Homo sapiens: one gene and its partners. The protein of the gene in region 2 purifies or fractionates together with the protein of the main gene of each other region. This does not show direct contact. Each region holds a gene or a part of one and is shown on either strand. Other genes may lie near its edges.

Evidence for each region.
Region 1: the proteins of FBLN1 (region 2) and KLHL15 purify together in Homo sapiens (co-immunoprecipitation; one large-scale study listed by IntAct). This does not show direct contact.
Region 3: the proteins of FBLN1 (region 2) and SPIN1 fractionate together in Homo sapiens (co-fractionation; one large-scale study listed by BioGRID). This does not show direct contact.

The regions. Positions count from the first base shown.
Region 1 is NC_000023.11:24,017,041-24,020,692, reverse strand, and holds part of KLHL15 (kelch-like protein 15), read left to right. Parts: intron 1-3,652. UniProt on the Homo sapiens protein: Substrate-specific adapter for CUL3 E3 ubiquitin-protein ligase complex.
Region 2 is NC_000022.11:45,505,833-45,509,484, forward strand, and holds part of FBLN1 (fibulin-1 isoform D precursor), read left to right. Parts: intron 1-3,652. UniProt on the Homo sapiens protein: Incorporated into fibronectin-containing matrix fibers. May play a role in cell adhesion and migration along protein fibers within the extracellular matrix (ECM).
Region 3 is NC_000009.12:88,464,884-88,468,535, forward strand, and holds part of SPIN1 (spindlin-1), read left to right. Parts: intron 1-3,488; coding exon 3,489-3,652. UniProt on the Homo sapiens protein: Chromatin reader that specifically recognizes and binds histone H3 both trimethylated at 'Lys-4' and 'Lys-9' (H3K4me3K9me3) and is involved in piRNA-mediated retrotransposon silencing during spermatogenesis.

The DNA of each region.
Region 1 (3,652 bases), on a different chromosome or scaffold from region 2:
TCTTGGACTACTTCTAGTCATAGTGTGGAATAAGCAGAGAAGCATTAAATTAAAGTCTTCTGATGAAAAATAGCATTCAAGCAGGGTTTTTTTTTTCTTATAAGGCTTCTTGTATTATAGGATGACGAAATGCTAAACATACCTGAAAAGTGAAGTAATTTGGTGCCAGTCTGGAGGCTGGAGGACCCAGGGCCCTCCTAATAGCTTAGTTAAATGGTCATTTGCAATTTGGTCCTGAGTTATAAAAATATTTTGATGACAAGAAAGAATTTCCAGTATTAAACAAATTAAAGTTAACTTACACAACGTCTCCTCCCATATTAAAGTGAGTTTTCAATTTGAGTAGTGTATTGAGAGTAAAGTGACCGCTAATAGAGCTTAAAAGTCTGTCTTTAAATTTGTCTTTTCTTTTATATTGGTATGTTGAGAAGTTGGCTGCTTTGAGATTGTCAAATTTACATTTTTTTACTTTATGGGTTACAGAAGTGAGAAATGTTATGACTCAGAAATTAATTCTGTTTTTATCCGTAGTAAGCCTTTGCATTCTCTTTTCGATATGCAACTGTGGCATTTTCTGCATAGGCATCAATTTTGGTAGGAGAACAGTTTGGGGATGAAGATAGTATGAAATCATTTAAATTTTTCATTGAGGGTAAGTATATTATATCAACCTCTGAGAATCTAGCTTTTGCATTGAATACCTTAAGCTTTTGTATGAATTTTCAAGCAGCTGTGGAAGGAATGTGAAAGCAATAAATTATTGCTTATGGCACAAACATAGAGGTTAATTTTGAAATGTCTTTTAATTGCCTATAATTTTGCCTTCACATCAGAATGGCAGCCTTATAACTGAAAAGGAAGCATTTAATTTCTTTGCCTTTAATTTCCTGTCCAGTTTTACCCCCACCAAACTTCTTTTTTTACTGGTCACTAGAGAGTTTGAAGTGTTCAAAAATTCTGTGATATAAATAGCAGTAATAGTCTTCCAGGGCAGAGGTAGGAAGAGGTTGAGGTTTGTGCGTGCACGTGTGTGTGTGTGTGTGTGTGTTGTCACTTATCTCTTACACTTTCAGTTGTTCTCAAGCCTGTGGTCTCAGGACTTCTTTGTACTTATTTGTACTCTTAAAAATTAGTGGGGGCCGGGCTTGGTGGCTCACACCTGTAATCCCAGCACTTTGAGAGGCCGAGGCGGGTGGATCGCTTGAGGCCAGGAGTTCGAGACCAGCCTGGGCAACATGGTGAAACTCCGTCTCTACTAAAAATAAAAAAATGAGCTGGGCGTGGTGGTGGGCTCCTGTAATCCCAGCTACTCAGGAGGCTGAGGCAGGAGAATCGCTTGAACCCCGGAGCAGAGGTTGCAGAGATCATGCCACTGTACTCCAGCCTGGGTGCAGAGTGAGACTGTCTCAAAAAATAAATAAACAAATAAAAATTAATTCTATTACATGGTAACCTAAATAACATTTTTTTATGAAAAATAACTTTTCTAAAACAGTTAAGAACTTGGTGAAAAGAGTGGCATTGTTTTAAATTTTTGCATATCTCTTTAATATCTGGCTTAATAAAAGCCAATGGGCTTCTCATCAGCTTCTGCATTCAGTCTGTTGCAATATCACATACCATGTGTAAACCTCTAGAAAACAGAATGAAAGTGAAAAAGACAAATAACTATTCTTTATTTATGTATTTATTTTGAGAAGGAGTCTTGCTCTGTCGCCCTGGCTGGAGGTGGCGCAATCTTGGCTCACTGCAACCTCTGCCTCCTGGGTTCAAGCAATTCTCGTGCCTCACCCTCCTGAGTAGCTGGAATCAGACGCACATGCCATCACCCCTGGCTAAGTTTTGTATTTTTTAGTAGAGATAGGGTTTCACCATATTGACCAGGCTGGTTTTGAACTCCTGAGCTCAAGTGATCAGCCCACCTCTACCTCCCAAGGTGCTAGGATCACGGATGTGAGCCACTGTGCCCGGCTGACCAATAACTTTAAAAAAATTATTTGGATAATAATTTTGACATTGGGAAGCCCCTTTAGTGGGGACTGGGATCTTTTAGGACAACTGGATTCACTTGTCCCCAGATCATGCTTTGAGAATCCCTATACTAATCATTCTTAGGCACAAAAATGTGAGGCTTTCTTTTATTTAGTCAGTACCAAGTTTATGAAACAAGACACGTTCTTCAGTATTTCTTTCCTGGTAGTATAAGTATGCCTTGTCATTTGGTCTAATTGGTTTCCCTCTTGAAAAAAAAAAAACCTACTATTTGAAATTCTGAAGGCCATGTATAAAGTGTTGATAAACCTATATATGAAAAGTAAGGATACAGAATTTTTGTACATTGAACATTTTGTCAGTAAATGTTTTTCCTCAAAGCCTCTTAAATTTTTCCTCCAGCACTCATTTAAAGAGTTCTTATTTAAGGTTTTTGTGTTTTACAATGATTCGTTTTTTTCTTTTGGGAGAGTGGGGCTACGCACTTCTTGTTGAGCACGCTACTGCTGCCGCGGCTGTCTCTGCCATTGCAAAGTAGTTCTTATAATAGTTTTCTTCCTTAAATTGATATAATTCTGTACTTAGATTTCTTTTTAGAGACAGGGCCTTGTTCTGTTGCCCAGACTGGAATGCAGTGGCTTCATCGTGGTTCACTGCAGCCTCGACATCCTCACCGCAAGCGATTTTCCTGCCTCAGCCTCCCAAGTAGCTGGGGCCACAGGAGCACGCCACCAAGCTCTGCTATTTAAAAAAATTTTTTTGTAGGGAAGAGGTCTGGCCACATTGCCCAGGCTGGTCTTGAACTGGATCAAGTGATCCTCGTGCCTTGCCTCCCAAAATGTTGGGATTACAGGCATGAGGCCGCTGTAACCAGTTAAAGAATTATGTACACAATTTTTTTTTTTTTTTTTTTTTTTTTTTGGGACATGGTCTCACTCTGTTGCCCAGGCTGAAGTTCAGTGGTGGATTATAGCTCATTGCAGCCTCGGCCTCCCGGGCTCAGTTTATCCTCTGACCTCAGCCTCCTGAGTAGCTGGGACTACAGTCACACACCACCACGTCTGACTAATTTTTATGTTTTTAGTAGAGATGGGGTTTTGCCACGTTGCCCATGCTGGCCTCGAACTCCCGAGCTCAAGCGATATGCCCATCTCGGCCTCCCAAAGTGGTGGGATTATAGACGTGAGCCACTGCGCCTGACTCTGATCTGTTATAAATCTGCATTATGATAAACCCTAGGGAGGCATGGGGTTGGTAGAGAGGGGAGACTGAGGGTTCTCACTTAGGTTAATTCATTTATTCACCACCCTAACTTGATAATAAGATGATGATGATTATTAGTAATGTATGGATGGAAACCAAGATAGGAAGTTAACAAAATTTCTGTAGGTCACACAGTAAGCACTCTGATTTCAGAGGTTTTGCTCTTTCCGACCACACTATTTTGTATTTTTTGCAAATAGAATCTAATTTTTTTTTTTTTTTTTTTGAGACAGGCTCTTAGTTTGTTGCCCAGGCTGGAGTACAATGGCGCCATCTCAGCTCACTGCAACCTCTGCCTCCTGGGCTCAAGCAATCTTCCTGCCTCAGTCTCCCAAGTAGCTGAGACTACAGGCACACACTACCACGCCCAGCTAATTTTTGTAGAGACGGGGTTTTG
Region 2 (3,652 bases):
ATGATCTCGACTCACTGCAACCTCCGCCTCCCGAGTTGAAGCGATTCTCCTGCTTCAGCCTCCCCAGCAGCTGGGATTGCAGGCGCCCATCACGCCCAGCTAATTTTTGTACTTTTAGTAGAGATGGGGTTTCACCATCTTGGCCAGGCTAGTCTCGAACTCCTGACCTCAGGTGATCCACCTACCTCGGCCTCCCAAAGTGCTGGAATTACAGGTGTGAGCCACCGTGCCGGCTGGCAGCCCTGTTATTAATGTTAGCTATTATTCCTGTTGTCCCCTTCTCTAGGAAGTGTTGGCACCAGGAGCCTTCGCAGCCCTTGGGGGCTCCCTGGCGGCTCCTTGGAGGAGATGAGGCTTGATGTGAGGGGAGCGCGGGAAGAGCGCAATTCTGCCAATACCCCAGAATTGTTTTCCCCAAGATGCCTCTGCACATTCTACTACTACTGAATTTCCCAGCCAGGCGCTGAGCAGAAGGCCCCATGGGGCTATAGGACTGGTAGTCGTCAGTGCCAAACCCGTGTCAGGAAAGGTGGTGTTCTTAGCCATTCAGTCATTCATTCACTAAGGGACAGCTCAGTGCCAGACACTGCTCTATAACTTGTGGATGTGGCAGGAAAGGAGAGAGACCCAGTTTTTCCCCCTCATGCAACTAGGAGATCCAGAAAAATGAACTGAGCCCTACTGGCAGAGTCAGGGAAGACTTCCCGGAGGAAGCGGCATGCAAACTGGGAACCTAAGGAGGAAAAGGCAGTGGCTAAGTCTGTGGGTAGGGCTGGGAGGATGGGGGAAAGGGTGTTCCTGGCAGGGGAAATGGCAGGGCCAAATACCTGGAAGGAAGAGAAAACACGAGACTTCCAGGGAAACCCCCTCCTTCTACCCACTTCCAGTTCCTTCCAGTTCCACCCCCTCCTCACCACTGGGGGAGACTGTGCTGTCTAGAGACTTCTCCAGCAGCTTCCCTGACCTGGTGAGACTTTAAGCCCGGGCTCTGAGCACTGGGCACCTGGTCAGGGCCGCCTTCCAGGTGAAGTTTATTAGAACAGTTCTAAGAGGGCATGTAGTTATTTTGCCAGCATATTTTATACAACAAGATTTTCCTTTTGCAGAATAGCAAATCATAACAATTTGATGAATGAATCCTTTCGTAGGCCCCATATGGTTCCAGTTTCCTTGTGATGATCTCACATGTGGCCCTATAAGTAAACAGGGTGGGAGGGGGGAACCACTGTGTCAACTTCCCTGGGATAGGAGACCCCCTCAGGCTGGAGGGGAGCTCAGGACTGGCTAAGTCATCTGCCACAAGTCACCCAGCGAGGAGCGGGGCTGGGGCTGGGCCTAGAGCTGGGCTGGGCCCCACCTCCTTTAACCCCACAGTGGTCCTAACTAGAGGCTGGGGTGGGAGGGAGCGAGGCACCAGTCGCCATAGCTTCCTACAGGTTATTTGCGGGTTACTACACTGTGCGGAGCCAACATGAGAAGGGGGTTAGGAAGCTGTGTGTTGGTCCCAATTCTGAAAGTGTCTGGAGAGATCTTGATGACACCCACAAACTCTCTGCCTCTGTTTCCTTCACTATAAGATGTGAGTGTCCTCTGGGTAATTATTATAGGTGAAATGCTTTACATTTAGTAACCAATGTCGTCATCTCAGCAGCCCTACGAAATAGGTGATCCAGTGTTGTTTTGAACCTATTTTTATTTTTTATTATTATTTTTGAGACGGGGTCTCACTCTGCCGGCCAGGCTGGAGGGCAGTAGTGTGATCTCGGCTCACTGTAACCTCCACCTCCTGTATTCAAACCATTCTCCTGCCTCAGTCTCCTGAGTAGCTGCGACTACAGGCATGCGCCACCACACCTGGCTAATTTTTGTATTTTTAGTAGAGATGTAGTTTCACCATGTTGGCCAGACTGGTCTTGAACTCCTGACCTCAAGTGATCCACCTGTCTCGGCCTCCCAAAGTGTTGGGATTACAGGCGTGAGCCACTGCGCCTGGCCCTGTTTTTCATTTTGGATCCTGTTACCCACTGGAGTGAAAAGGTCCTGTGAGTTTTGCTACCTAGGTATGAAGCCCGGCTTCTTGTTTTGGCCTAGAACTCCTCTATGGACCTGCACAGTGCCATTTCTGAGAGTCACTGATGCGTGTGATAGGTTGAGGATGGAAATCCAACACCTGTGCACCCAGCATGGTCTCCCCACAGCACGGGGACTCGAGCACCTTCCTGCCCCACCCCTGCCCCAGTTCACCTGTGTTACCTAGCTATACCCTCACCCTAGCCCTGCAAAGGAGGTGCTGTCATTGTCCCCCTCATCAATGAGGGGACATGGAGGCCCAGAGAGTCCAGGTAGCAAGACTGTGGGTGCATAGCTGCTAAGTGACAGCAGCAGGACTTGAGCTTGGGCAGCTTGGCCCTGACGTCATACCCCTCACCAGCACACTGGACAGCCTCGCGTATCTTTTTTTTTGAGACGGAGTCTTGCACTGTCTGGGGTGTGATCTTGGCTCACTGCAACCTCTGCCTCCCAGGTTCAAGCAATCCTCCTGCCTCAGCCTCCCAAGTAGCTGGGATTACAGGTGCCCGCCACCACGCCTGGCTAATTTTTTGTATTCTTAGTAGAGACGGGGTTTCACTATGTTGGCCAGAGTGGTCTCTAACTCCTGACCTCGTGATCTGCTCACCTTGGCCTCCCAAAGTGCTGGAATTACAGGCGTGAGCCACCGCGCCCAGCCAGCCTCACGCACCTTTAGAAGACTTGAATCTTTAAGTCTAGTTCAGGGGGGGATGCCTGTTTCCTTTGGAGTGTGATGGTGGGGTGTGTATGAGCTTTACAGTCAGAGCTGGATCTGAAGCCTGCCTCTGCAGAGGCTGCATGGCCTCGGGCAACTTGGTGATTCTCTCTTTGCCCCCACTTTATAGAATACCTAGGATCATGTGAGATCATTTGTGCGTTCATTCATTCACGGACATTTATTGAATGACTGCTTAGGGCAGGCATGGGGGCAGGAGGCAGAATGAGACAGTGTCTGGCTCAGACTCATGGCACTAAGTACAGAGTTAATTATTTGTGCTAAGTGCTGGGAAGCTCAGAGTACAAAGAGACCATGCAAGAAAGAAAACATATTTGTCCCATGTGCATGCGTGTATATGTGCATATGTGTGTGCATTGGCGGTAGTTAGGGAGGACTTCCTGGAGGAAGGGACCTTTGAGCTGGTGTGGCATGAACAAGCTGGCCTGAGGAGAGCAAGCGTCCTGGGACCCTCCAGCCTTTGAAGCTCCAGGTTCCAAATGCCAGGTGCAGAGGATGCATGACAGGTGGCCAGAGGGGTGAGAGGAACACCAGGGGAGATGCGTCCTGGAAGCCCAGGAGGCCCTTGGAGCAGGGTGGGATGTTGCAGAAGGATGAGGATGCCCCTCTGTGCACTGGGCTGATGTAGGAAGTTGCTGCCGGGGCCAGAGCTGCCTGGAGGGAACTGTGGGGAGAATGCTTCTCGCCTTCCCAGAGAGGTACCTTCTGCTCCTTCTCTCTTGCTGCCTCCTCCCGGCTGGTTCACCATCCAAGACCCCTGTCATCTCCATGACAGATGCTGGGAACAGGCTCAGCAGTGGACACAGTCAGGTCTTGTGTTGGGGATGGGGCCAGGAGCCCTAAGAG
Region 3 (3,652 bases), on a different chromosome or scaffold from region 2:
TCTACCTATTAAACAAAACAACCTACCTTTCCTCCCATTCCCAGCCCCTGGCAACCACCATTCTACACTCTGTCTCTATGAATTTGACTATTCTAGATATCTCATAGAAGTGGAATCACACAGTATTTGTTTTGTGAGTAACTTATTTCACTTAGCATAATGTCCTCAAAGTTGGTTCATGTTGTAACGTGTGACAGGATTTCCTTTAAGGCTGAAAAGAACATTCCATTGTATCTATATACCACAGTTTGTTTATCTGTTCACCCATTAATGGACATTTGGATTGCTTCTACCTCTTGGTAGAATGTAAAATTGTACCATGTAAAATTGTGAATAGTGCTCCTGTAAACATGGATATGCAGATATTTCTTTGAGATCCTGCTTTCAGTTGTTTTGGATATAGGCACAGGAGTGGGATTGCTGGATCATATGGTAATTATAATTTTAATTTTAGTATCGTAATTCTAATTTCTTAGGTAGAACTACCATACTGTTTTCCACAGCAGTTGTACCATTTTCCAGTCCTACCTACAGTATACAAGGGTTCCAGTTCTCCATCCCTTAGTCAGCAGTTGCTATTTACTGTTTTTGTCATAGTGGTCATCCTGATGGGTGTGATACGATACCTCATTTTGTTTTGATTTGCATTTCTCTGATGATTAGTGATATTGAGCATCTTTTTATGTGCTTGTTGGCCACTTGTAAATCATCTTTGGGGAAATATCTACTCACATCCTTTGACCATTTTTTAATTAGGTTATTTTGATTTTTGTTGAGTTGTGAGAGTTCTTTATATGTTCTGGAGACATGAGTTTTAATGTAACAGTATGACAGATTTATTAATGGTTTCAGATTCTGCATTGTAACTAACCTTTAAGGAGCTAACTGTTGAATTCTGTGGTTTCATATAAGTATATCTAGAATTATCTGAAAGACGATTAGAATATTCTTTTCAGTATCATATCTTTGAGAGGCTGGATTTTATACCTGAACTGAAAGAGCAGATCATAACAGATTGAGTGCTAAAGCAGATATGAGAATCTACTTGTTCTTTTTAAAACCTAGACATTAGGAGATTTGCAAAAATGTAAAATTAAGCCACTCTTAATGTATTTTGATAGGAAATAGTTATTTTTAATTTAAAATGCATTGATATATAGGTATTTTTAAATAAATGTTTCTAGATTTGTTTTTCATTTTCTGAAGTAGTAAATATTGGTAGGCATTATCTATGTAAACAGATGCTTTTTTAGGTCTGTAGTAATTTCCATTTATGTTTTAATTTTTTTTTTAGAGACAGGATCTCGCTTTGTCACCCAGGCTGGAGTATAGTGGTGTGATCAGGGCTCACTGCTGTCTCAACACGTTGAGCTCAAACAGTCCTCCTGCCTCAGTCTCCTGAGTTGCTGGGACTACAGGCACTCACCACAGTACCCTGCTAATTTTTAACTTTTTGTAGAGATGAGATCTCATTATGTTGCCCAGGCTGGTCTCAAACTCCTGGCCTCAAGCAATCCTCCTGCCTGGGGCTCAAAGTGCTAGGATTATAGATGTGAGTCGCTGTGCCCAGCCAGTAATTTTTAAGAATGCACATGGAGTTCTGAGATCTAAGTCTGAGATCTACTGGCTTTAAGAAACTAGTGGGGTTTTTTTACTGTCATACACGGGGGGAATTCTGTGTAATTTTTTATTATTACTGCGTACTTAAAACCAGCCATACATGTTTAGGGTTTGCTGATAAAATTAAATAGCAATACATGTATCAAGAAAATCTCACTTTTTTGTTTCTTTTGATGTAACAGAAATAGAAGTTTGTTGAATGAGGAAAATAGGAGAGCTAATTGTTTGTTGTTGTTGTTTTTGTTGTTGTTAAGACAGGGCCTCACTCCCGTAGCCCAGGCTGGAGTGCAGTGGCGCCATCTTGTCTCACTGCAGCCTCGACCTCTGGGTTTAGGTGATTCACCACCTGAGCCTTCTCAGTAGCTGGGACTACAGGCCTGCACTGCCACACCTGGCTAATTTTTTGTATTTTTAGTAGAGACGGGGTTTTGTCATGTTGCCCAGGCTGGCCTCAAACTTCTGGGCTCAAGTGATTCGCCCGCCTTGGACTCCCAAAGTGCTAGGATTACAGGCGTGAGCCACCGTGCTTGTCTCTAATTGTTTGTTTGTTTGTTTGTTTGTTTTTTAAAGATAATTGTTTAAATTTGGTATAAAGACAGTTATCTAAAATTGTGGACTGGAGAAGTCTTAAAACCAATGGGATCCTTCATAGTTTTTCCAGTATTAAAAAGATGAAGGTGATAATTTTCACCACTTTTGAAAAATATTAAGGGCTAGGACCGTTAATCTATCATTTCAGAGACCTGAGCTCCCAACCACATGGGGTATCTGATTAAATCATACAAATACTGACCTGCTATGATCTAGGTATAAAACAAGAAAGGGAAGGTCTCTGCTTTCATGGGGATGTACAAGCAACTAACAAGTACACAAATAACATAAAGTGGGATAACTTTAGATCATGGTGAATGTTATTAAGAGGTAAAATTGGGTAATGTGACTGGGATTTGTGGGGCTACCTTGTTGGTCAGGAGAACTCCAAAAGGAACCGGCCTTCTGAAGGTATGGGGAAGAGCTTATCAGGCAGAGGAGAGTGTGTCCTAATGGGAGAGGAAGAAGAGCAGAGTAGAGAACGCATGAACAACAAGGAGGAAGATGGGAAACCTGAGGGCAGAGGCGTGAAGGCTTTTAGGGCTTGGGGGCTATGGTGAGCAGTTTGGTTGTTTTTCAAATTATAAAGGGAAGGCATGGGAACATTTTAGATCACACAATGTGGTATCAGTGACACAACGATTACTTTGGTTGCAGTGAAGAATAAGATTGTAGGAGCAAGAGAGTAAAAACCTATGCCTTAATAAAAAAATGGAAATAAGACTGAAGGAAAACAAACACCAATTTCTTTAAAAAAAAAAAACAAAAAAAAAACCCTCTGTGCCTTGAATAGCTTTTCTAAGTTTTAAATAAACGTTCTGTGGTTATGTAAGATGCTAATACAGGAGAAGCAAAGTGAACCGTATACAGGAACTCTACTATTTTTCCAGTTCTTCTGTAAGTCTGAAATTATCTCAAAATTTAACTGTTAAGTAAACAATAACAAACAGTATTTTATACCTTGAATGAACAATTAAAACTTTTGATTTGGGTACAGAACCAAGAGCAGATGAGTCCAGAAAAATAAAAAATCATATTTTTTTCAATTAACTGACTTGGGACAAAATACTTCTATTCTGTTGAATCCATCTCTGAGCTGGGGCCCAGTAGTTTGTCTTTGGTTTTTGTACTTTTTAAAGCTTTCCCAGATTCTGATGCTTGCTAATACGTTGCATGGACAAAATTTCAGGTGTAGCCTTCTTTAGTAAATTCAGTCTTCATAGTCGGTAATCAGCGAAACACTTTGTCAACTTTTTTTTTTTTTTTTTAATCCCCAGCGACATCTCGAATCAGCGATGCACACTTGGCAGACACAATGATTGGCAAAGCAGTGGAACATATGTTTGAGACAGAGGATGGTTCTAAAGATGAGTGGAGGGGAATGGTCTTAGCACGTGCACCTGTCATGAACACATGGTTTTACATTACCTATGAGAAAGAC